7 linked regions of the Homo sapiens genome follow. The protein of the gene in region 3 purifies or fractionates together with the protein of the main gene of each other region. This does not show direct contact. Each region holds a gene or a part of one and is shown on either strand. Other genes may lie near its edges. The genes, in order: CPSF6, NSRP1, GLUD1, DDX42, NNT, KDM4C and NRCAM.

Region 1 (3,500 bases), on a different chromosome or scaffold from region 3:
TGTCTTTTTCCTTATGTCAGATGTTCTATGTCATAAGAATAAAATGGTTCACACCAATACAAGTACTTAGTTGTGGAAAGGGAGAGTAGAAGATAAAAATGGAGATTTTCCTGTGCTACAGGCTTAGTCAAGCTTATGGTCTATTTAATGGTTATCAAAGGCAATTAAATAGTGTTGAGTGTTCTGCTTTTACCTACATTTCATTTTTCATGTACTTAGTTACAAATTGAACCCTCTTCTATTTTTTTCCTGCTCCTGTTTCTGTTTCATTTTAGTTTTCCTTTTCCCTGATTATCATTTAGGCATGTAAGTGACACCCAGTAGCATTGCTTTAATTCTGCTGGTGACAGTGCCAAAGCTTTACTATACTCTTTTTGTTGTCTGTTGCTTTTCTCTTGCTAATTTGCTTGACTAGATAACTAAGAATTCAGGTAAGCATTAGCTCTTTGTTCACTGAGAATAATACAACTTGCAAGATAATTAATTTGGATTGTTCTACATGTATTTCGTTTATTTCTCTTTACCTTGTTCATTTATTACGACATTTTGAATTATTTACATACCCATATTTCTTCTTTCTTTTATGGCTCAGCTCACTATGCTTTTTTTTAATACTGGTAGCTTCCTCAAGGTTGGAAAACAAGATCTGAATACTATAGAAAATAATAACTATTTTTCTGTGGTCATATTAAAGATATAATGGCTTTGGATTTTGGGGTGATTTTTCTACTGTCAGTTTAAAAAAAACTTGTCTATTTGCATTTGTGTGTTATTACTTCTAGTTAAGAGTATTTCCAAGGAAAGTTTCATGTTACTTATTTTGTTTCCATGTCTTTTTCCAAAAGAACTTATTTTTTATATTATAATAAATATCAGTGGAAAAGTAGGTTTCGTTATATAGAAATTAACTTTAGGCTGGGTGCAGTGGCTCAAGCCTATATTTGGGAGGCCGAGGCAGGAGGATTGCTTGAACTCAGGAGTTCGAAACTAGCGTGGGCAATGTAGCGAGACCTGGTCTCTACAAAAAAAAAAAAAAAAAGAAAAAAAAGAAAAGAAATAAAGGAAACCCCCTTTTTTTGTTTTTTTGTTTTTTTTTGAGATGAAGTCTTGCTCTGTCGCCCAGGCTGGAGTGCAATGGCACGATCTTGGCTCACTACAACCTCCGCCTCCCAGGTTCAAGCGATTCTCCTGCCTCAGCCTCCTGAGTAACTGGGATTACAGGCGTGTGCCACCATGCCTGGCTAATTTTTGTATGTTTAGTAGAGACAGGGCTTCATCATGTTGGCTAGGCTGGTCTCGAACTCCTGACCTCAAGTGATCCACCTGCCTCGGCCTCCCAAGTGCTGGGATTACAGGTGTGAGCCACCACTCCCGGCAAGAAATTCACTTTTTAGACCTGTTCAAGAATACATCTATTGCATAAAGTGGAAAAAGATTTGTACTGAAATCCTTGGCCTTTTTCCATCAGATTTTTAAAACAAAAAGTTGAATTTGTATTCAAGTCTATTTTAGTAGTATTTTGACTTTTGTATAATCTAGAGCATTATTTCTGTATCTCAGGAAGCTGAATATGGTGGGCATGATCAGATAGATTTGTATGACGATGTCATATCTCCATCTGCAAATAATGGAGATGCCCCAGAAGACCGAGATTACATGGATACTCTCCCACCAACTGTTGGTGATGATGTGGGTAAAGGAGCAGCACCAAATGTTGTCTATACATATACTGGAAAGAGAATTGCATTATATATTGGAAATCTAACATGGGTAAGTGAAGTTAATATAAGAATTAAATTATTGGTAATTGATTTTGAACTGCTCTAGTAATTAATGTTTTTCTCCAGATTTTTATAAGTTTGAAGTTACTGTGTTTTTCTATATGTGTTTGCTTGTCCAATGAGGAGGGAAATACAAATATCTTTGCAACATCGTTAATTCGAATTCTTCTAGTTTTGAGTTTTGTGGTCATTCAACTTTTCTTGGTGGAGATACTAGTTAAATATAGTTAAATTAGTTTTGTCTTCAGTTACCTTTTTTATGCTACCACTTTACCTTGCTTCCGATAGCCCAGTTTCACTAAAAATAATGCTCACATGGGGTCTCAAACCAGGATTCAAGTGTAAAAGGAAAGAGACATAGTATCACTCCTGGTTTAAAAATAGTGTCCATTATTTAATTTGTGTTACAAATTTGAGTTTTATTTCTGCCCTTAAATTTGAAATCTGATTTATAGAAGCACTTCTGTGCGTATTATATTTTAATTTGGGTTGTCATGAGACTAAGATTATTGATTTAGAGCTTCATTAAATGCACATATGTATATTTATTTTTTATTAATATTACATCTTAAGTATCATTAAAATAGTCCTATAGAATGTTTGTATTTCTACTTAGTTATATGTATACTTGAAAGTTAAAAACTTGTATATGCAAAAATCAATAAAACTTGGCACCCTTGCATTTCCTTAATAACACTGTATTTTTAAACGTTTTATTTACATTTCTTTTTTTCAGGGGGAGACAGAATTTGCAAAACTCTGTCACCCAGGCTGGAGTGCAGTGGTGTAATCATAGCTCACTGAAGCCTCAAACTCCTGGGCTGAAGTGATTCTCCTGTGTCAGCCTCCAAGTAGCTAGGACCACAGGCATGTGTCACTCTGCCTGGCTAATTAAAAACAAAACAAACACTTTTGTAGAGCTGACTTCTTGCTATATTGCTTCAGGCTGGCCTCAAATTCCTGGCCTCAAGTGATCCTCCTAACCAAGCTCTCAAAGTGCTAGGATTATGGTGCCCAGCCTATTTACATTTCTTTTAAAACTAAATGTAACAGATCTCCCACCACCCAGTCTGAGTATTCTATAAAATTGGAGACAGTAGCAGTGTAGTTATGAAAGTATGGTTGCTAAGTAAGTATTTGGATCTTAGCTCCACCATCTATTATTAGTTTTGTGACCTTGTTAAAGAGTTAAAGCTCTTTAACTTCTATTGTATCATGTGTAAAATGGGTATAATAATAGTGCTTATATGGTTGTTATAAGAGTTAGTTGATACATAAAGTATATGGTAGATATTAAATACATGTTAGTTTTTTCTTATCTGCATTTTAATTCAAAAACAAGATGAAATTCAAAATACTTTCCTTTAATGGGAGGAAGTGAAATTGGTTTTATTCACAATTTAAAATCATAGCAGTTTAAAGCTGTAAGGGACCAGAAACTCTTGAGAGTCAAATCTTATTGTAACCCCAAGGGTATATACCTTCTAGTTTCTGAAATACTTATCAGGGAATGAAGTTAGGTTCCCAGATGGTTTTTGTGCTGTTTAAAAATTGGAGTCTGACTGGCCATAACTAGACTTAGATTTGCACTCAGCATTTATTTTCTCTTTTATGTCTCAAATTTCCCCTTAAAAACTAGACTGGGATAATAAAAATCTTGGTTTTATTTTAATGGTTAATGAGGGGGAAAATATCTTGCAGTGGACAACAGATGAAGAC
Region 2 (3,500 bases), on a different chromosome or scaffold from region 3:
AAAGGCACAAGGAAACAGTAGCAGAATCTCTCCCCTGTGGTTAGCTGTTTGCTCTGTCACTGAACTTTAGGGTTATGAGTTTGTGATCATAATTTATATATAGGAATTCAAGACACAAGGAATATGGTATTATATAGCAGTATAAAACAGAAAGGAAAGTTTAACTAAAAACACAGTTGAACTCTTCAGTAACTATTATTTCTACTAGACTTTTCTCTTAGTTCTCATTTTGTGGCTTTTGCCTTAGAACATGATCTGAAATGTAAAAACATTTATTACAAAGTATAACGCCATGGCATTTGTCAGAAACAATATAAATATAATTTTAAACCCTAGTTACATTTTTTTGGGATGAGAAAATAATAGAGTAACACCACTCAAGGAGGATCAATGAGGCAATTAGAAAAAGAATAACATTAATTGAAGAAAGAATAAAAATTGGATGAATTAAGAATATCTTAATGCTTTACCTTAGTGCTTTCTACTCATGATTATTTCTCAAGATCTAAGTAGAATATGTATTTATAAAATACTTTTTTTTTTGAGACTGGGTCTCTGTCACCCAGGCTGGAGTGCAGTGGCTCAACCATGGCTCACTGCAGCCCTGACCTCCCAGGCTCCAGTGATCCTCCCACCTCAGCCTCTTGAGTAGCTGGGACTACGGGAACATACCACCACGTCTGGTTACTTTTTGTATTTTTTGTAGAGACGGGGTCTCACTATGTTGCCGGGGCTGGTCTCGAACTCCTGGGCTCAAGCAATCTTCCTGCCTCAGCCTCCCAAAGTGTTGGCATTACAGGTGTGAGCCACCATGACCAGCCCTGTAAATACTTTAATTGACAAATGCTCATCAGCTTTTTGGACAGAGTCTCGCTGTGTCGCCCAGGCTGGAGTGCAGTCGTATGATCTTGGCTCACTGCAACCTCTGCCTCCCAAGTTCAAGTGATTCTTATGCCTCAGGCTCCCAAGTAGCTGGGATTACAGGCATGCACCACCACACCTGGATAATTTTTATATTTTTATAGAGACGGAGTTTTACCATGTTGGCCAGGTTGGTCTCGAACTCCTGAGCTCAGGTGATCCACCCACCTCAGCCTCCCAAAGTTGTAGGATTACAGGCGTGAGCCACTGCGCCCATCCTCTTCAGCTTTTAAGTAGAAGAAAACCAAGTCTATAACATTCTGTCTAAGCATGTACTATGTGTTTAGAGTGCCAGTCGGCAAACTTTCTGTAAAGGACCAGATAGTATTTTAGTATTCATATTTTAAGACTTTAAATTTATAAATTCATATTTTGAATGCCAGATCATATTCATACTTTAGGGCTTTTTGTGTATATGATCTCTGTCGCAGTTACTGAGCTCTGCCTTTGTAGTACAAAAGCAGTTGTGGACAATACATAAATGAACAGGGCTTTGTTTCAATAAAAATTTATTTATGAAAACAGGCAACAGGCCAGATTTGGCCTGCAGTTTGCCAACTCCTGATCCAGCGAGTAGTTTACACACTGTATGTTATATACTGTATGTCTGTAAAATGAAACTGCACTGTGCCTTATTGAATATATTCTAATTTTTGCTTTCCCTCTGTTAGCATGTTTGGATGTAACCAAGCAGAAAGATCTCAGTGGATTTTATAGGCACCTATTAAATCAAGCAGTTGGTGAAGAGGAAGTACCTAAATGCAGCTTTCGTGAAGCCAGGTGAGGAGACGTGTATGAAATATTTTGAAGAAAAATACTGTTAATAATCTGTGGTTGTGGGGTCATTTTAACCCTCTGAAAGATGGAAGATTACAACATTGCATATTGTGTTGTCAGCCAGCCTTACCTAACTGAATGAATGGCTAGAAATTTGCAGTTTCTTGATTTTAAAACCTACAGATTTAGTTTAAGATCATTTTTATTCTGCATTTCACAGAAATTGTTACATTAAAACAGTGATTGAGTTTAATATTATTGTAAAACCAAAGACAGACTTTTAATGTATAAAGTTTCTGAATTTTTAAGTGATTTATGGGTCTTAACAAGGGAGAGCAAAATCTTCAAGGGAAAGCAAAATCAAATTGTAGTTTTTTCTTTTTTCTTTTTTTTTTTTTTTTTTGAGGCAGAGTCTCACTCTGTCGCCTAGGGTGGATGGAGTACAGTGGTTCAATCATAGCTCACTGCAGCCTTTGCCTCATGGGCTCAAATGATCCTCCCAAGTAGCTGGGACTACAGGTGCAAGCCATCATGCCCAGCGAATTTTCTTTTTGTGTTTTTTGTTGTTGTTGTTGTGTGTGTGGTTTTTTTTTTTTGTTTTTTTTTTTTTTAGATGGAATGGAGTCTTGCTCTGTCACCCAGGCTGGAGTGCAATGGCGCGATCTCTGCTTACTGCAACCTCTGCCTCTCAAGTTCAAGGGATTCTCGTGCCTCAGCTTCCTGAGTAGCTGGGACTATAGGTGCATGCACTACGCCCGGCTAATCTTTGTATTTTTAGTAGAGATGGAGTTTCACCATGTTGGCCAGACTAGTCTCGAATTCCTGACCTCAGGTGATCCACCCGCCTCGGCCTCCCAAAGTACTGGGATTATATGCATGAGCCACCACGCCCAGCCTCTTTTTGTATTTTTGTTGTGGAGATGGGGCTTTATGTTGCCCAGGCTGGTCTTGAACTCCTGGGTTTGAGGGATCCCCCCTCTATCTCAGCCTCCCAAAGTGCTGGGATTACAGGTATGAGCCACTGCACCTGGCTGCTTTTTTTTTTTTTTTTTTTTTTTTAAATAAGAATGTGGGTATTCCTCATGATCCTTAAAATGATTGGTGCCTGGTACCTTAAAATGATTTTGCTGTCAGAATTAAGGAGAAAGTTGGAAAGAATTAGGTGTCTACAATATAAGTCTTATATACATGTTCAGATAGTGTATAAAAAGGAAAGTGGTTTGTTTTCATAAATAGAACCCAGCCTTCCTAAAATGTAAGACTTACATATCGGGGCTAGAACTGCACTGTTAGTATGTAGGCACTAGTCACGTGTAGCTACTTAAATTAATTTAAAGTAAATAAAGTAGGTTGGGCGCAGTGACTCACGCCTGTTATCCCAGCACTTTGGGAGGCTGAGGCAGGTGGATCATGAGATCAGGAGATGGAGACCATCCTGGCCAACATGGTGAAACCCTGTCTCTACTAAAAATACAAAAATTAGCTCGGCATTGTGGCACATGCCTGTAATCCCACCTCCTGGGGAGGTTGAGGCAGGAGAATTGCTTAAACTCGGGAGGCGGAGATTGCAGTGAGCTGAGATAGCGCCACTGCACTCCAACCTGGCGACAGAGCCAGACTCCATCTCAAAAAATAAAATGGCTGGGCACGGTGGCTCATGCCTATAATCCCAGCACTTTGGGAGGCCAAGGCGGGCGGATTGCGAGGTCAGGAGATTGAGACCATCCTGGCCAGCACGGTGAAATCCCGTCTCTACTAAAAATACAAAAAATTAGCCAGGCGTGGTGGCGGGCGCCTGTTGT
Region 3 (3,500 bases):
CTGTTGGGAGTGGGAGGGTAGAAAAAATGCTGCAGCTTCTTGTGGGTATCCTTCACACACAAACACCCAGTGCCCCAAGCACTGTGCAGTCAAACATCAACCCCACTCAGACTTTCCTCCTTGGGATTGAGAAGCAATGGATTATAGAGAAAGAAAGGTGGATTAGCACTCCAAAACTTTGAAGAGTAATTGACCAAGACCCCCAAAGCCAAAGCTGTGGGCATCCCCACTTCCAGTATACCCTGTACCAACACGTAATGGCTACTAGATACAGGGGCACTAGTACCTACCTGTCTGCTTGGCTACCTGCCCTCTTTGCAGAAGTGGTGAAGGGAATCACTCAACCTCAGAAAGGGAAAATGGCTTTCTCATTTTCAGATTGAAAGAGGTTGGCAGTGGGTGAGGAGAATAACAGGTAAGGATCTCTTTTAATATACCCATTTGAAGCCAAAACCTCTGTTTAGACATACGGTATTTTGAACCTGGTGATTATTCATTGCCCATGTTTGTGAATTATCAGAAAGCAGAATTCTTGCCAGGCATAGTGGCTCATGCCTGTAATCCCAGCACTTTGGGAAGCCAAGGTGGGAGGATCACTTGAGCCCAGGAGTTTGAGACCAGCCTGAGCAACATGGTGAGATCCTGTCTCTACAAAAAATTCAAAAATTAGCTGGGCATGGTGGTGTGCACTTGTGGTCCCAGCTACTCAGGAGGCTGAGGTGGGAGGATTACCTGAGCCTAGGAGGTTGAGGCTACAGTAAGCCATGTCTGTGCCACTACACTCAGCCTGAGCAACAGAGCAAGACCCTGTTTCCCACCCCTACCCCCCCAAAAAAAAGCAACCTGAATTCTTGAACTCCCTGCAACCAGGTCACCCAAACCAAAGGTAAAAGGAACATAAAAAAGCCTTCTGGAAAGTGTACAGAAATTCATTGCAGGGTGATTTTTGTCTTGTGAAATCATAGTTACTGTTATTAGCAGGTTTTTTTAACGTTTTATATTCATTTTTCATGGTGTTCTGATGTACAAGCTGCTTCAAGTGTTTTTGGACATAGCTTGGATGTAAAATGTAAAAAGTGGATATTTTCAATTTGTAGCTTTCTTTTTTGAAGCTTACTTAAGTTTGTTCTAAATATAACCCCTTCTTTCTCACCCACCCCAACACATTTTTTTAAAAACACCACCAGGTATCCGTTACAGCACTGATGTGAGTGTAGATGAAGTAAAAGCTTTGGCTTCTCTGATGACATACAAGTGTGCAGTGGTTGGTAAGTGATCGCCTTTCTTGCTGCCTAATGAGAACTCTGGGGAAATATGTTTACACACATGTTACTGTTAAGATGCTGTAGAAATATACCTTATCAGAACTGATTTTTTTTCAAGTTGTAATCTTTAAGACCTGCATCATTTTTCAATTAGTCTAAATTAAGATATAGCCTTTTTTTTTTACATGGGGGATTTTTTAAAATAGGAGATAATTGGATTTTAAGTCTAGATCTTTGTTTTCAATTCCTCAACACATTCTGTAAATAAGACCAAATTATAGTAGAAGGAGAGTAAATAAGCTATTATCTTTTAGAAGTGGTAAAGAGCACTGATTAAATATATATTAGAACTTGGCTAGCCAATTTTATTGAACAATTTCTGTTCAACAAAATGTTGTTTAAAGTACAGTTTAGAAAATGATGGTAGGTTTATTTCTTGAATTTTCAGAAATTCAAGCTTAAAGCATCACGTTTCTCTAATATTGTGTGGTGCTTTCTGTCATTTTACTTTTTTAACATTTATATGGAATAGCAACCATCAGCCTTCTCTTTCAGATGTGCCGTTTGGGGGTGCTAAAGCTGGTGTTAAGATCAATCCCAAGAACTATACTGTAAGTATGAAAGTGATATTTGTTTTTTATTGTTGTTGTTGTTTTTGTTTTTCTGAGACAGAGTCTTCCTCTGTTGTTCAGGCCGGAGTACAATGGCGCAATCTTGGCTCACTGCAACCTCCGCCTCCCGGGTTCAAGCAGTTCTCCTTGATCCAGTAACTGGGATTACAGGTGCACGCCACCATGCCCGACTAATTTTTGTATTTTTAGTAGAGAGGGGATTTCACCATGTTGGCCAGGCTGTTCTTGAACTCCTGACCTCAGGTGATCCACCTGCCTTGGCCTCCCAGAGTGCTAGGATTGCAGGCATGAGCCACCGCACCCGGCCTCAAAGTGACATTTGTGCACACAGTGCATTTATGAAGGACTTGAAATTACTGGGCTTCTCTGTATCCCCCACTATCAGTGAGATCAGTAGTCCCCATTGCTTTTCAAATGGAATAGAAAAATGTAAAGAATTAACTCATAGCGTGTTTTGCCATATAAAGATCACCTACTTAATATCTATATCCTTTATCATTTTCTGTTTCATTTGGTTTTGTTTTTATGAGTCTTTTGTTTTACTTTTTTGCTTTTTGTTTTATTATTTTCTTACTTAGTTAAAACGTAATTAATATCTTCACTTATATACTTATACCCATATTTATATAATGTCTTCACTTAGACACTTATACCCATATTTAAGAAATACTGTGATCTGATTAGCCAGGCATAGTGGTGCACACCTGTAATCCCAGCTACTCGGGAGGCTCAGGCATGAGAATTGCTTGAACCCAGGAGGCAGAGGTTGGCTGAGATTTCACCACTGCATTCCAGCCTGGGTAACAGAGCAAGACTCTGTCTCAAAAAGAAAAAAGTATTACTGTGATCTGAAGTTTTTATGTCAGGATCTGATTCTAGTGACACATATCTTAACTAAGACTATAAAAACCTTACTTTTTATCCAGTCAGTTCCAAGTTAATTCAAACTGATTGTCACAATGCTTTACATAATACTAAATTATCTATATACAAACATAAATGCATGATTTTTATTCTCTTTAAAATTCACCATTTAAATGGAATATAATTATATTTAAATTAATCTTAATTAAGATTTAGTGTATTTTTCAGTGGGGAATTAATAGAATGGGAATTTGAGCCCTAGTTCTACTATCTTGTTTTTATAACCTACTTTTTTGATCCCTTATTTTGTCACCTTTAAAATGGCAATGCCTACTTTATGAGTTGTTCTAAGGATTACATGAGAAGACATATGAAAATGTACTATAAATAGAAAATAAGATGCTAGCTATAATCTCAAGCGATTTTTATATCAATTTTTTCTTTTGTTTTTGTTTTCTTATTTTACAGGATAATGAATTGGAAAAGATCACAAGGAGGTTCACCATGGAGCTAGCAAAAAAGGGCTTTATTGGTATGTGTAGCCACATAGTTTTTGGTATAAAGTGGGAACATCTAAAAATTTTTTTTTTTTTTTGAGACGGAGTCTCACTCTGTTGCCCAGACTAGAGTGCAGTGGTGCGATCTCGTCCGCCTCCTGGGTTCAAGCAATTCTCTTGTCTCAGCCTCCCAAGTAGCTGAGATTACAGGCATGTGCCACCACACCCAGCTGATTTTTGTA
Region 4 (3,500 bases), on a different chromosome or scaffold from region 3:
ATTGAGCTTATGCCGGAGATCTATTAACTGCTGTGGAGTGAGGTTGGTTATCTCTTCATGCTCATTGTAAAAGTTTTTTTCAAATGGTGGATAGTCAATCTGCAGGTCCAATTATTCAAAGTTAGTCTAGAATTCAAGAGTCAATTCTGTAAGTTTGATTTTATTGCAAAATAATCTTTTCCAAATTTTACACAAGTAAAGCCATTCCAGCTAGAGAAAGCAAAAAAATTAATTTATTCTCAGCTTAGATCCTAAAAAGTATAGCTAGTTTGTTTTCTGTTCCTATTTTCAATATAAACACCAACCTACTTCTTTTATTGGTTGAGACAGTTTCGCTCTGTCACCCAGGCTGTAGTGCAGTGGTGCGATCCTGGCTCACTGCAGCCTCCACCTCCCCGGTTCAAACAATTCTCACGCCACCTCAGCCTCCCAAGTAGCTGGGATTACAGGCATGAGCCACTGTGCCTAGCCTAACACCAACCTACTTCCTAAAGAGACTCTTAAGGAAACCTCGAATTTGAACAACATTGAAGCAGACTAAGGAATCTCTCTATAATGCCAAAGACCTCAGAGGACAGAGAAGATATTTCACCATATAACATTTAAATATGTTTTGAATAAAGCTGTTTAACCTAGCTCTAAGCATTTAAAAACACTCCTAATATTTATTTTGGAGATAGCTCTGCTTTTAGAGGGAGTTCTATTCTGTTTAAAAACATGGAGTTGTTTATAACTTTTAAAAAATGTATGGCCAAGAATTTCCAATTCCAGAAAGTAGTAGTCACTTCTATTATTCTTTTCATAGCTTAGTGTAGTAGGTATACAAAACATAAGCACATCACCACCTATCAATTTGGCTAAATTATTTTTTATAAACTATTTTTTTTTTCAGAGACAGGGTCTTGCTATGTTGCCCAGGCTAGACTCAAACTCCTGGGCTCAAGTGATTCTCCTGCCTCAGCCTCTCCAGTAGCTGGGACTCCAAGCATGCACCACCATGCCTGGTTCTTAAACTTATTTTTTAAGAAAAATATAAGCATTCTATAGGTAGTTAAAAAAAAAAATCATAGTTCTGGATACATAAAAAAAATTGGAAGAAGAGTGACACTATTGTATTTTCACAAATCTCTTTATTAATGTCGACTTAAATAGCTCCTACTATATTCAAATTATTGCAATAGGTTGGTTTTATTTAAGCCTATAAGAAATTCTTGCCTCCAGGCCTGGAGCAGTGGCTCATACCCGTAATCCCAGCACTTTGGGAGGCTGAGGCCGATGGATCACTTGAGGTCAGGAGTTCAAGACCAGCCTGGCCAACATGGTGAAAGCCCGTCTCTACCAAAAATACAAAAATTAGCCGGGCGTAGTGGCACACACCTGTAGTCCCAGCTACTCGGGAGGCTGAGGCAGGAGAATCTCTTGAACCCGGGAGGAGGAGGAGGTTGCAGTGAGCCAAGGTTGCGTCACTGCACTCCAGCCTGGGCGACAGAGCAGGACTCCATCTCAAAAAAAGAAAAAAAAGCAAAGGAAAAATACGTAGTTGAAAAAGAGAGGACAGTATTTTAGTAGCCTTTTCAGATACCTTTTTTTTTTTTTTTTTTTGAGATGGAGTCTTGCTCTGTCTCCCAGGCTGGAGTGCAGTGGCACAACCTCAGCTCACTGCAACCTCCTCCTCCAAGGTTTAAGTGATTCCCCTGCCTCAGCCTCCTGAGTAACTGGGATTACTGATGCCTGCCACCAATCCCAAAGACGGGGGTTTCACCATGTTGGCCAGGCTGGTCTCAAACTCCTGCCCTCAAGTGATCTGCCCACCTTGGCCTCCCAAAGTGCTGGAATTACAGGCATGAGCCACCGCACCCAGCCCTTTTCAGATACTTTTTATTTTACACTAAAACTTGACAAGTGGTCATTTCCTAAAAGTTATTTTCATTGTGTAATCTGAAACCATATTACTGAAGTTTTCACACTCTGTTACATTATAATCCATTTATTTATCATGTATTTTGAGTTGAGCTTTTATTCATGCTTGACTTTGTAATGTCATACATTGATCATTTGGAAAATATTGGTTCACTGAGGTTATATACAGATCATCCAAATGTTAACACATTTCATTATATTAAAAATCAGTTACTAATATCACCATCAATTTTGTCACAATGGTCTTTAAGTACTGAAAAGCTGTCAAGCCTACTGTGGTAGATGTAAGTTTTCCAAATTCTAATTTTTGCTTGAAAGCTTGAATTTTTTTTTTTTTTTGAGATGGAGTGTTGTTCTTATTGCCCAGGCTGGAGTGCAATGGCATGATCTCGGCTCACTGCAACCTCCGCCTCCTGGATTTGAGTGACTCTCCTGCCTCACTCTCCCGAGTAGCTGGGATTACAGGCATGCACCACCATGCCTGGCTAATTCTGTATTTTTAGTAGAGATGGGGTTTCTCCATGTTGGTCAGGCTGGTCTCAAACTGCTGACCTCAGGTGATCCACCCGCCTCGGCCTCCCAAAGTGCTGGGATTACAGGCATGAGCCACCATACCCAGCCTGAATTTTGTTATTAAAAAACAAAATTTAGATGGAGTTTCACCAAGTTGCCCAGGCTTATCTCAAATTCCTGAGCTCAAGCGATCTACCCGCCTCAGCCTCCCAAAGTGTTGAAATTACAGGCGTGAGCCATTGCGTCTGGCCGAAAGCTTGAATGTCTATCATGGGTAATAAACACTTTCAATTGTTTTCCTTGAAATGTCATTGATTTTGTCCAGTGAAAGTGGTGTTCTATGAAAAAAAGTAGCTAGTTCACCTTACAACTCAAACACATAAGTGCTTTTCCTTGAAATGGCTATCATATTTTGGTATGCAACAGAAATGCTTTATGCGTACTTCCCATTTTATCACACAGAATAAAAAGACATGTAGCTCAAGGGTCACGACTTTAATAATTTTTACTGTTCAGGGCATTCTTGAGTGAAACTGGCCTTTTTTTTTCTTTTTAACTGCAATGGTCTGAGAACAGAGAATACGCCTACTAGAACAGTTTGGTGCCACTGGCTTGATTCATGCTAAGGCATCAGCAGTTTTACTTATCACTGCTTTTACACCAACAATGTAAATGTTGATGCAGTAACAAAGGAAAACAATCTTGGTATAATGAAAAGTGTTTGGACTCTGTAGGCTCCCTGAAAGGGGTTCTTGGTCCACACTGAGAACCACTGCTCCAGATCTAGAATCATTAGTGTATGTGAGATCTCGGCTGATATTTAACCTGGATGAAACACTGATATTTTTTCAAGTGGGTATACCGATGTCCTCATTCCTTAAGGATCCTGTAATTACTGGCTCCACTGTGAAGAAACAGCCTCTCATCTGCCCCAGATCTAGGACCAACAGTAAAAATTTATAGCAATTAAAAAAACAAATGTGACCGGATGCAGTGGCTCACATCTGTAATCCCAGCACTTTGGGAGACCAAGGTGGGTGGATCACTTGGGGTCAGGAGTTCGAGAC
Region 5 (3,500 bases), on a different chromosome or scaffold from region 3:
CATGTTGCTCAGTGAGCTCAAAGAGGTACTATGTTTTTTATTTCCTTTGGTTTGCTAAGGTGGCTTTCTGGTGACTCAGAGAATGCTGGACATGTTCAAGCGTCCCACTGACCCCCCAGAATACAACTACCTGTACCTGCTCCCTGCCGGCACCTTTGTTGGTGGATATTTAGCTGCCCTCTACAGTGGTTATAACATTGAACAGGTAAGATGCTCTTTGTAAGTTTTTATATTTACCACAATATTTTCTTCTCTATTAGATTTAACATTGTTAGTTATCCTAATTCAAAGTATCGAGCAAATACAACTCTGTCAAGCAAATACAACAATAACCCTAGAAACATCTTGGTCAAACTGAGCATTCTCTTCCCCTAAGGATCAGGACCCTGGATTCTAGAGACAGATTTTTCTGGTAACTGAGTTTAAATATGGGTTTATGTCTTTGTTTTGATACATTTTTCCACATGTAAGAGGAGTTAAGGTTATCAGTATCTTCATTATGTATCTAGCTAGATTGCGGTGGATTTATAATGAAACAATACAAAATTTGAAAAATTATTATTAAGTACTATTAGTTCTTTTCCTATTCTTCCTCTACAAATCCAGCACATCATCTCTTGCTACTAAGAGATGTTATATATTCATAAAAAAATCCATAAAGAAAAGGATAGTTTAAACTTAATGTTGTATAGAAAAACAGAAATAATCCAGCTGGACTTTGAAAGTTCCAACTTGTAATATAACAGACCTTCAGCTTTGTTCTGAACTCTGTATTTTCTATTTCTTTTCAATGGCTGTCTTTTAGTTTCTTCTATGTTTCCAACCTGCAGTATTTATTGAATGAACAATTTTTTTTTTTTTTTTGAGAAGAGTTGGAGCAGTGAGTCAGAAAGACCTTAGTCTGAATTCCAGATTTCCAATTTATTGATCATTTGCCTTGGAGAAAATATGCAACTTCTTTAAGCTTTGATTCTGTCTTTTGCAAAATGAGGATAATGATTTTTCCCTCTTGTGGATCTCATGACACTGTGACAACACAAATAAAACATGTGGCAAAGCCCCTGGCACTTACCTCAGGGGTTGGCTCTTTTACAGCATTTGGTCAGGTTTAGTATTTTTAGATCCAGTAATGACTCCATTTAAATTTAGGTACTTTTATGTGTATTTGTGCATGATAGCAAATCCAGAAAAAATCAATTTATATAAATGGTATAAGTGCAAATACAATATAAGTATTTAATATGTTAATATTCCTAATTGGCAGGAAAATATATTGAAATCTCTAAGCTAATAGACCAAAGGTTTTAATAATCTCTCTCTCACTTTTCCTTTGAAAAGATCATGTACCTAGGCTCGGGTTTGTGCTGTGTCGGTGCCTTGGCTGGCCTCTCCACCCAGGGAACAGCACGTCTTGGCAATGCACTGGGCATGATTGGGGTTGCTGGAGGACTGGCAGCCACCCTCGGAGTCCTAAAACCGGGCCCAGAATTACTAGCTCAGATGTCTGGAGCGATGGCTTTGGGTGGTACCATTGGTAAGCACTTGTGGGCTTCTGCCTTCATGTGAACTCCAGTTTCTCAATATATATTTCTAAGGTCCATATTGATGAAATAATTAAATTTTGTTCATGGAAGTTGCTTCAGTTAATATTATTTTGGTGAAAATTCATTCCAGTTGGTGTAATTCTCATTCAAATACATTTTAGAACACTGAATAAATGCATCAACTGAGTCAAAATATCCTATACTCAATTCTTATCTTCCTTTACTGACTGTGTCCCGTTAGCTGATAATGGAATGGGGGATTGGAATCCTTATGTATGTACTATACATAAGCTAACTTTTGTTCTGCTGGGTATAAATAACAGCCAAAGATTCTGCTTCATAGACCTGTTAAAAATGAAAAAAAAAAAAAAAAACATGTGCCAGCAGAAAAACTACTGTTTTAATTTTATTCAGTTGTTTGCTGGATTGTTAAATTTTCAGGAATTTTTAGGCTGGGCATGGTGGCTCAGACTGTAATCCCAGCACTTTGGGAGGCTGATGTGGGTGGATCACTTGAGGCCAGGAGTTTGAAACTGGCCTGGCCAACATGGTGAAACCCCGTCGCTATTAAATATACAAAAATTAGTTGGGCATGGTGGCGTACAACTGTAATCCCAGCTTCTTGGGTGGCTGAAGCATGATAATCGCTTGAACCTGGGATGTGGAGGTTGCAGTGAGCTGTGATCATGCTGCTGCACTCCAGCCTGGGTGACAAAGCGAGACTCTGTCTCAAAAAAAAAAAAAAAATTTTTTTTCCAGGAATTTTTAAAGTTGATTGTTAAACACAGCCATTATTAAATACTAAATTACATAAACTTAAATGAATCAGAAACAAAGTTAATAATATTAAAAACTCGTAACTTTCTAATTAATTTACTAGGTTTTATTGTCTATGCTCTTGAGGTTACTTATGTCTATTGTATGTGTATAGAAGAAATACTATGTATCAGTGGGCTGTGGTACATCTCTTTCCAATTCTACATTCAATGACATCACATTGGTAGATTGAAATTTGACTTGGTAGCAGTATTGCAGTGTGGAAATAAGCAAACGCTACAAATCTGGGCTTGATTTATTGTTTTGTTTATTGTCCAGACGTGAGAAAGTGATGGAGAAAATGTTAATGATGCAGCTTAAACTTGAGATGTTTTGACTGTAGCTGTGACATTGTGAATAGCACAAATAATTGAGCAAATAATCTTCCAGTATTTGAAAACTATTATCAGATTCAGCAATAAAGTCATTCATATGGTTGATAAATGAGTGAAGTTCTCGCATACATTCTGTTGTTTTACTTTCGTCTTACTTATTAAAGCAAATAAAAATATCAAACAATGTTCCTGTTGGAAGTATGCTTGTTCATCAGTTGCAAACACTAGGTTGGCTACAGATGTAAGAGTTTAGCAAAGATCCATAAAAACATTCTTTGAAAGTCAATTTGTCTACATGGAATTTTCAGTAAAGAGCACTATTTCTTATTATTTGAAAATTGTGTGCTAGCCACCTTTATATCAGTTAAAGCTCATGTATTTGTATGTGCATGTATTTTTTTCCCCTGGAACTGGTTATTAAATGTTTCCCAGTGGAACACTGGCTTTAGGCCTCCTTTTATACTTCCTCAGGAAAGCTTTGACTCTTTTCTTGATAATCTCTGGGGAAAGGGACTTGAAGGAAAATGTTTGCTCTGTAGGTTCATGGCAGGAAAACCTTTAGACATGATCTTAGCAAATATTCTGAGCCCCACTCCTTCTGTATCACCTACCTATAGCCATGCAGTTCCTTCAGAGGCTCCTAATTTGGGTATTTACTGCCCAGATTTTTGCATTTCTTTACCTTGGGACTTTGCTCCCACCTACCCACCTGAAAACCAAGGTCTTCTTCATGTTCCAGGTGTTTCTTATGTGCTCAGGAGAAAGCACTGGCTATAGAGAAGAGGGCCTGGGTTGCAATGGGGAG
Region 6 (3,500 bases), on a different chromosome or scaffold from region 3:
CACCATCAAATAAACAAAGACAGTTTTAAAAATAGATATGACAGATAAATAAATACCTGCTGCACAGTGCTTAATATCCTAGGCATATGCGTTTTTTGACCCTCAGAGTAGTCCTACAAAATAGATGTTATTGACTCCTGTCTTACAAATGAGGGAAGAAAGGCTGTGAACAAAATTTTTAATGATTTAAGAATAATTTTTTAATAATTTGTCCGAGAGCACGCAGCTGGTAAAGAGAGGGCCAAAATTCTCTCTCAGCTCTGCCCTAACTAGGGTGGACAACCATCCCTGCTTGCCTGGGACCATCCCTGATTTTAGTACTGAAAATAACTACATCCCAAGGGACCCTTGAGTCCCAGGCGAACTAGGACGGTTGGTTACCCTAGTCCTAGCACAGCATACTCCCTTCTAGGTTTGTAATTGCCTTTTTGTCTTTTCGATGTTTTAAGTGGTCTAAAACAAATGAAAGTAGGCACAGGTGGTTCTAGCTATGCTATCAACTAAGTTGGGTAAATCAGATGACACTATGGCCTAGTTCAATGTTAAAGAAATGTTTCTGCTCAAACAAGGCCAGGAAGAAAACCCTTCCCATTGTTAGCCCTCCCGGAAGTGACAGCAAGGGTTCTCATGTGACTGGCACCTAATTCCACTGTATTGTTTAGCTTATTCAAAATGCTAACAGTACGTGGATAATAATACGTTCAATTGTATGTTTGATCTTTATTAAGACCGTGGTGGATGTTCATCAACCAGAATTGGTAACTTGTGCCTGAGAGACATACCCACCTGGGTGTCTCAGCAAAGCTAGACCAATGCATTGGCACAGATGTGGCCAGTTAATATTATCATCCACTCAAGAGAGTGTTTGCTTAGTGCAAAGTGCAGCGATATATCAGTTGGACATTCTGTGAATTAAACAATAAGTGTAGCTGGGCACAGTGGCTCATGCCTGTAATCCCAGCACTTTGGAAGGCCGAGGCAGGCAGATCATCTGAGGTCAGGAGTTCGAGACCAGCCTCGCCAACGTGGTGCAACCCCGTCTCTACTAAAAAAATGTATAAAAATTAGCCAGGCATGGTTGGCGGCATGCTTATAATTACAGCTACTTGAGAGGCTGAGGCAGAAGAATCACTTGAACCCAGGAGGCAGAGGTTGCAGTGAGCCGAGATCGCGCCGTTGCACTCCAGCCTAGGCAACAAGAGCGAAACTCCGTCTCAAGAGAAAACCAAAAACCAAAAAAAAATTAGTGTAAATTTTTTTCAAACTCTAGATTTTTTTTTTATTAACATGGCACAGCTGTGTGGTTTAACTTACCTTTTGACTAGAAGTATAAGCATATTTTCATTTCTTTAAAAAATTCAGACAAAATTTAGGGACTTCAAAAATACCATGTGGTTCAGAGTTAGAACATATTAAGTATTCTACCTGATTACATCCGTTTTGTTTCCTGCTAGATTAGTTCATGTTGTATTAAACCTAAACCAATCTAAACCTAGGTGCTCTAGGTTTCTGTTAGCTGGTGTTATTTACCTTTTCTTTGACAAAATCTTTTAAAATGTTAAAAACAATTGGTTATGAAATTATTTGCTTCCATTTGGTTAGTGCGAGAAAAGTTTTAAACATTTTGTTTTAGATGATGATGTATTTTCACACATTGATGAGGTTTACATGTTAGGAGGTTGAGAAACAGATTTTCCCAGCTCCTTTGATGGCATTTGATTGAATTTGACACGTGAATTTTGAAAGTTCAAGCTCTGTAAGAAATGCATAAATTATTTTATCTGGGAGGATTATTATATAAGAGTAAACAGGCCGGGCATGGTGGCTGACACCTGTAATCCCAACACTTTGGGAGGCCAAGGTGGGAGAATTGCTTGAGTCTAGTCAGACCTTATCTCTACTAAAAAACTACAATAAAATAAAATAGCTGGGCGTTGTGGCACACAGCTATGGTTCCAGCTTCTCAGGAGGCAGAGGTGGGAGGATTGCTTGAGCCTGGGAGGTTGAGGTTGCAGTGAGCTGAGATCAGGCCACTGCACTCTAGCCTGAGCAACAGGGCAAGGCCCTGTCTCAATTTAAAAAAAAAAAAAAAAAAAGGAAATATATTATCTTTTCTTTCACAGAGAGAAACAATTCTCCTTGTTACGTTGTCAGAGCCTCTTAAAGAAATGAACCGTGCTGACAGACCCAACCCATTTTAATGCTGAATTTCCCACAGTCTCATGTTTTGTGATTTCCATTTGATCAGCAGCTACTTTTCTTTGTTGTTGCTTCGCCAGATAAAGTTTTCATATCCTGTATTCCAAGACACTCATTTCCAAGAATTTTGGCCTGTTTTGAAATGTATTTTGTATTTAGTTTATTTATTTATTTTTTTGTTTTGAGACGGAGTCTTACTCTGTCACCAGGCTGGAGTGCAGTGGTGCGATCTCAGCTCACTACAACCTCTGCCTCCCAGCTTCAAGCGGGTCTCCTGCCTCAGCCTCCTGAGTAGCTGGGACTACAGGCATGCGCCACCATGCCTGGCTAATTTTTGTATTTTTGTTAGACAGGGTTTCACCATGTTGGCCAGGATGGTCTCGATCTCCTGACCTTGGGATCTGCCTGCCTCAGCCTCCCAAAGTGCTGGGATTACAGGCGTGAGCCACCATGCCCGGCCTCTACTTAATAAGGGAAATAACTCTTCTTACTTCCTTGGTTGTTGGCTGGTTCCCTTGTTTGTTCTGTTTGAGTCCTTTTCATCTTTTCATGTAGTTAATTGGAGCCTTTAAAAATGGTCAGTGCTGTTTTTTTAATATGTATCATGTTATATTATCTTTCATTAGGTTGAGTTTGAAGATGGATCCCAGATAGCAATGAAGAGAGAGGACATCTACACTTTAGATGAAGAGTTACCCAAGAGAGTGAAAGCTCGATTTGTAAGTGCTGGCAGATGCCACTTGGGGACCTGCCAAGTGAATTCCTTGTCCTCACCTCATGTTTCCCAAGCCCAGCAGGAAACATACTTGGGCTTTTGGATTAATTCTAAAAAAAGCCAATGCAACATTTTCCTTAGTGGAACCTATTGAATGCAAACTTCAAATTCAACCAAAATCGGGGAAATTAATGCATGTGCTTTACTTTTCTTCTAATGAAGTCACATGATGCTTCTTTGTGTTGACATTTATTGGTGCACAAAAATACTTACTGAATGTGTGCTCTGTGTAAAACACCAGGAGCAAACAAAGATACCATCAAGGCATTTGCAATCTTGTTAGTAGAAGCAACATTAAAAGTATTCAGGAGTAGATCAAAGGGGACTCGGCATAATTGAATGTCTGTCTATTCTTTTATAGGTTTTTCATGGATTGACTACCTTCTGTCTCAGAAAGTTACTGATGTTTGTGTCAGTTCATCATTAAGCTAAACTCTGACTTTCATAATAAAAGGGATAAACAAAGCCTAAATGCTAGTTGTGGGAATACTAAAGCAGTTTTTTAAAAAGGAAATAGTAGTTTCAT
Region 7 (2,644 bases), on a different chromosome or scaffold from region 3:
CTCTCTCTCTCTCTCCCTCCCCCCAGCCACACCAAGCTCCTTAGTGTTCCTAGAACCTGCCAGGCTTCCCCTCACCCCGAGACATTTATACTGCTTGTTACTCCTGCAGGAACTGCTCTCCCTCCAACTATTCACCTTGCTAACTCAACTCTTTTAAAGTTGTTGACCAGATATTACTGCTTGATGAGGTCTTCCTGGACATCTTATTAAATGCCAGCTCTCCATCCCTTCTCCAACACCTTCTGCAGTCTTTACTCAGCTCTATACTTTGCATAGTGCTAATCCTCTTCTGACATAATATATATGTAATTTTTTTTATTATGTTGATTGTTAATTGTATTTTCTTCCACTAGAAATAAAGCCAGTGAGGTGAGGGTTTTAGTCTGTTTTGTTTGCTGCTATATTCCCAGTGCCGAGAACAATCTATCTTAGAGTAGTCACTCAATAAACATTTATTGGATGAAGGCATGGGTGGATAGATGGCTAGACCAAAGAAATGCCACAGATGACAAATTTCCAGCAGTGTATTCCTTGGGACACTAGTTCTACAGAGCAGAATAAGACTAGTCATTGGAATCCAGGTGACAAATTCTGCCTGTTATTGAACTCTTCAGCTGAATTAACTGTCACACTGAAACATGAACTATATTTCACAAGAAGGATTTAATAATTAAACCCCAGAGATGTTGTGTAGGCTATTTTCATAACAGGTTAGACACTCAATGCTATGTCCTCTGAAATGCTCACAAACACAGACCACCCCAAGATGATACCTCTCCAGTTGTTTATTAGCAGTGGTGAAAATATAGTTTATTCAGTTTGCAATAAGAAATTGTGTATTACTGAAACAGGTTGTTTTCAGTGGCATATGCCAGTGTCATATTATGCTAGCATTATTTCCCAGTCTTCAGATTTTCTTCTTGGAGAAAAATTGAAATCCCTAGTAAAAGTTATTGTCAAAAGAGCCAGGATACTTGTGCATCTTGAAATGTTTGTATCTTGGCTTGAAAAAAAAAGTCACTGTCTGAAACAGAGGGAGCAGTAAAGTCTTAGCAGAAATTGCTAGATTAAATACTGCAGCCAGTGATACCTTTTGTATGTTAAGGCTTTTTCATTTTTACATTAGTAAAAATGTATATGTTTCCTATTTTGCCTTGCATTTTTGTTCTTTGAAAGAAAACAAAATGTTAGATCCTGTCATTGCCTTTTTCTATTTTTTTCCCAAATGTTACCTATTAAAAAATAGGTCAATATGCATAACTAGGTATTTGACCGTATGGGTGAACATTCAAAAACATAATGATTACTCTTTGTCTTCCAGAAATTGTGCTTACGGGTTCAACAGAGAAATAAGCAAAAATTGTAATAATGGAATCTTGTAAAGTCGTATTAAAGTACACTCCTCAGATTCCCATCCAGTATAGTCAGGCTGCATAACACACAAGGAAGAAGGGAGCTGGGGGGTTAACATGAGTGTAGGAAGCATTTGCTATTACATGTTTGGAGTCATTCACATTCTTTAGAATATATTGGCATGCCATTCATAGTACAAATGTAGAGCTTTTAAGTTAAAGTGCGTCTCTTTCCAGATTAATAAATCTTTACTCATTAACTAAAATTTTTACCAAAAAAACAAAAAAATACTGTGTACTATCAGTATAAGGATTTTGCTTTTCTTCTTAGGCTGTTTTCATTTGTTTCTTCTGCATCCTTTTAATGGAATTTTGTAGGTCTCTTGAAAGGTAAGGTTGAAGTTTACAGTCTGGCCTGCATTGATAACAAAATTATTTGAAATGCAGGATTTTGCTTCTCCTTCTGGCTCAGAAAAAAAAAATCCACATTTCACACTTAACCAAAATCATGCTCCATTCACAACCAAGGAATCAGAGATATTATGCAGTTTAACATACTAACTTCTTTACTTGCCATAAGCTTTTGCCTTTTTGAATTCAAAATAGTGATGATTTTTCTACTTTTCTGAATTCTTTCTTATTTAATGCTTGTGATTATTTCTGGATTGCTTTCAACTCAGGAATCAGAATTTGTCATTGAAATTAACAAACACTATTGGGAGCCATCCACTCTACTGAAGACTTCATGATTCAACCATTTCTGCTCCTGATTTCCATTCCAACTCATCCTCGTCATTGGAGTCAACCTGAAAATTAGATTTGGCCAGAGAAGCCCAGGACTCCAAATGCTTTCTCATAATTTGCATGCATGGTCTTTAAAAACAGAAAATGTTACCTAAATGCCAATCTTGACAAAAATGTTTTCTCTTTCTTCCAGTGATGCAGAAGACCACAAGCCTTTGAAAAAAGGAAGTCGAACTCCTTCAGACAGGACTGTGAAAAAAGAAGATAGTGACGACAGCCTAGTTGACTATGGAGAAGGGGTTAATGGCCAGTTCAATGAGGATGGCTCCTTTATTGGACAATACAGTGGTAAGAAAGAGAAAGAGCCGGCTGAAGGAAACGAAAGCTCAGAGGCACCTTCTCCTGTCAACGCCATGAATTCCTTTGTTTAATTTTTAAGCTCTTTGCCAATATTCCATTTCTCTAGAATGTTTATCCTAAGCACTTGTTTGTCAGCCCTCTCATACTATGAACATATGGGTAGAGAGTATATTTTCTGCTGTATGTTA

Evidence for each region.
Region 1: the proteins of GLUD1 (region 3) and CPSF6 purify together in Homo sapiens (affinity purification with mass spectrometry, with the first as the bait; one large-scale study listed by BioGRID). This does not show direct contact.
Region 2: the proteins of GLUD1 (region 3) and NSRP1 purify together in Homo sapiens (affinity purification with mass spectrometry, with the first as the bait; one large-scale study listed by BioGRID). This does not show direct contact.
Region 4: the proteins of GLUD1 (region 3) and DDX42 purify together in Homo sapiens (affinity purification with mass spectrometry, with the first as the bait; one large-scale study listed by BioGRID). This does not show direct contact.
Region 5: the proteins of GLUD1 (region 3) and NNT fractionate together in Homo sapiens (co-fractionation; one large-scale study listed by BioGRID). This does not show direct contact.
Region 6: the proteins of GLUD1 (region 3) and KDM4C purify together in Homo sapiens (affinity purification with mass spectrometry; one large-scale study listed by BioGRID and IntAct). This does not show direct contact.
Region 7: the proteins of GLUD1 (region 3) and NRCAM fractionate together in Homo sapiens (co-fractionation; one large-scale study listed by BioGRID). This does not show direct contact.

The regions. Positions count from the first base shown.
Region 1 is NC_000012.12:69,249,569-69,253,068, forward strand, and holds part of CPSF6 (cleavage and polyadenylation specificity factor subunit 6), read left to right. Parts: intron 1-1,560; coding exon 1,561-1,770; intron 1,771-3,482; coding exon 3,483-3,500. UniProt on the Homo sapiens protein: Component of the cleavage factor Im (CFIm) complex that functions as an activator of the pre-mRNA 3'-end cleavage and polyadenylation processing required for the maturation of pre-mRNA into functional mRNAs.
Region 2 is NC_000017.11:30,179,316-30,182,815, forward strand, and holds part of NSRP1 (nuclear speckle splicing regulatory protein 1), read left to right. Parts: intron 1-1,592; coding exon 1,593-1,701; intron 1,702-3,500. UniProt on the Homo sapiens protein: RNA-binding protein that mediates pre-mRNA alternative splicing regulation.
Region 3 is NC_000010.11:87,074,344-87,077,843, reverse strand, and holds part of GLUD1 (glutamate dehydrogenase 1, mitochondrial isoform a precursor), read left to right. Parts: intron 1-1,187; coding exon 1,188-1,268; intron 1,269-1,820; coding exon 1,821-1,876; intron 1,877-3,229; coding exon 3,230-3,293; intron 3,294-3,500. UniProt on the Homo sapiens protein: Mitochondrial glutamate dehydrogenase that catalyzes the conversion of L-glutamate into alpha-ketoglutarate. Plays a key role in glutamine anaplerosis by producing alpha-ketoglutarate, an important intermediate in the tricarboxylic acid cycle.
Region 4 is NC_000017.11:63,801,670-63,805,169, reverse strand, and holds part of DDX42 (ATP-dependent RNA helicase DDX42), read right to left. Parts: intron 100-3,500; coding exon 1-99. UniProt on the Homo sapiens protein: ATP-dependent RNA helicase that binds to partially double-stranded RNAs (dsRNAs) in order to unwind RNA secondary structures. Unwinding is promoted in the presence of single-strand binding proteins.
Region 5 is NC_000005.10:43,651,680-43,655,179, forward strand, and holds part of NNT (NAD(P) transhydrogenase, mitochondrial), read left to right. Parts: intron 1-59; coding exon 60-205; intron 206-1,338; coding exon 1,339-1,534; intron 1,535-3,500. UniProt on the Homo sapiens protein: The transhydrogenation between NADH and NADP is coupled to respiration and ATP hydrolysis and functions as a proton pump across the membrane. May play a role in reactive oxygen species (ROS) detoxification in the adrenal gland.
Region 6 is NC_000009.12:7,166,973-7,170,472, forward strand, and holds part of KDM4C (lysine-specific demethylase 4C), read left to right. Parts: intron 1-2,825; coding exon 2,826-2,918; intron 2,919-3,500.
Region 7 is NC_000007.14:108,149,793-108,152,436, reverse strand, and holds part of NRCAM (neuronal cell adhesion molecule isoform A precursor), read left to right. Parts: intron 1-1,683; coding exon of another isoform or gene 1,684-1,717; exon of another isoform or gene 1,718-1,730; coding exon of another isoform or gene 1,731-1,742; intron 1,743-2,289; coding exon 2,290-2,527; 3' UTR 2,528-2,644. UniProt on the Homo sapiens protein: Cell adhesion protein that is required for normal responses to cell-cell contacts in brain and in the peripheral nervous system. Plays a role in neurite outgrowth in response to contactin binding.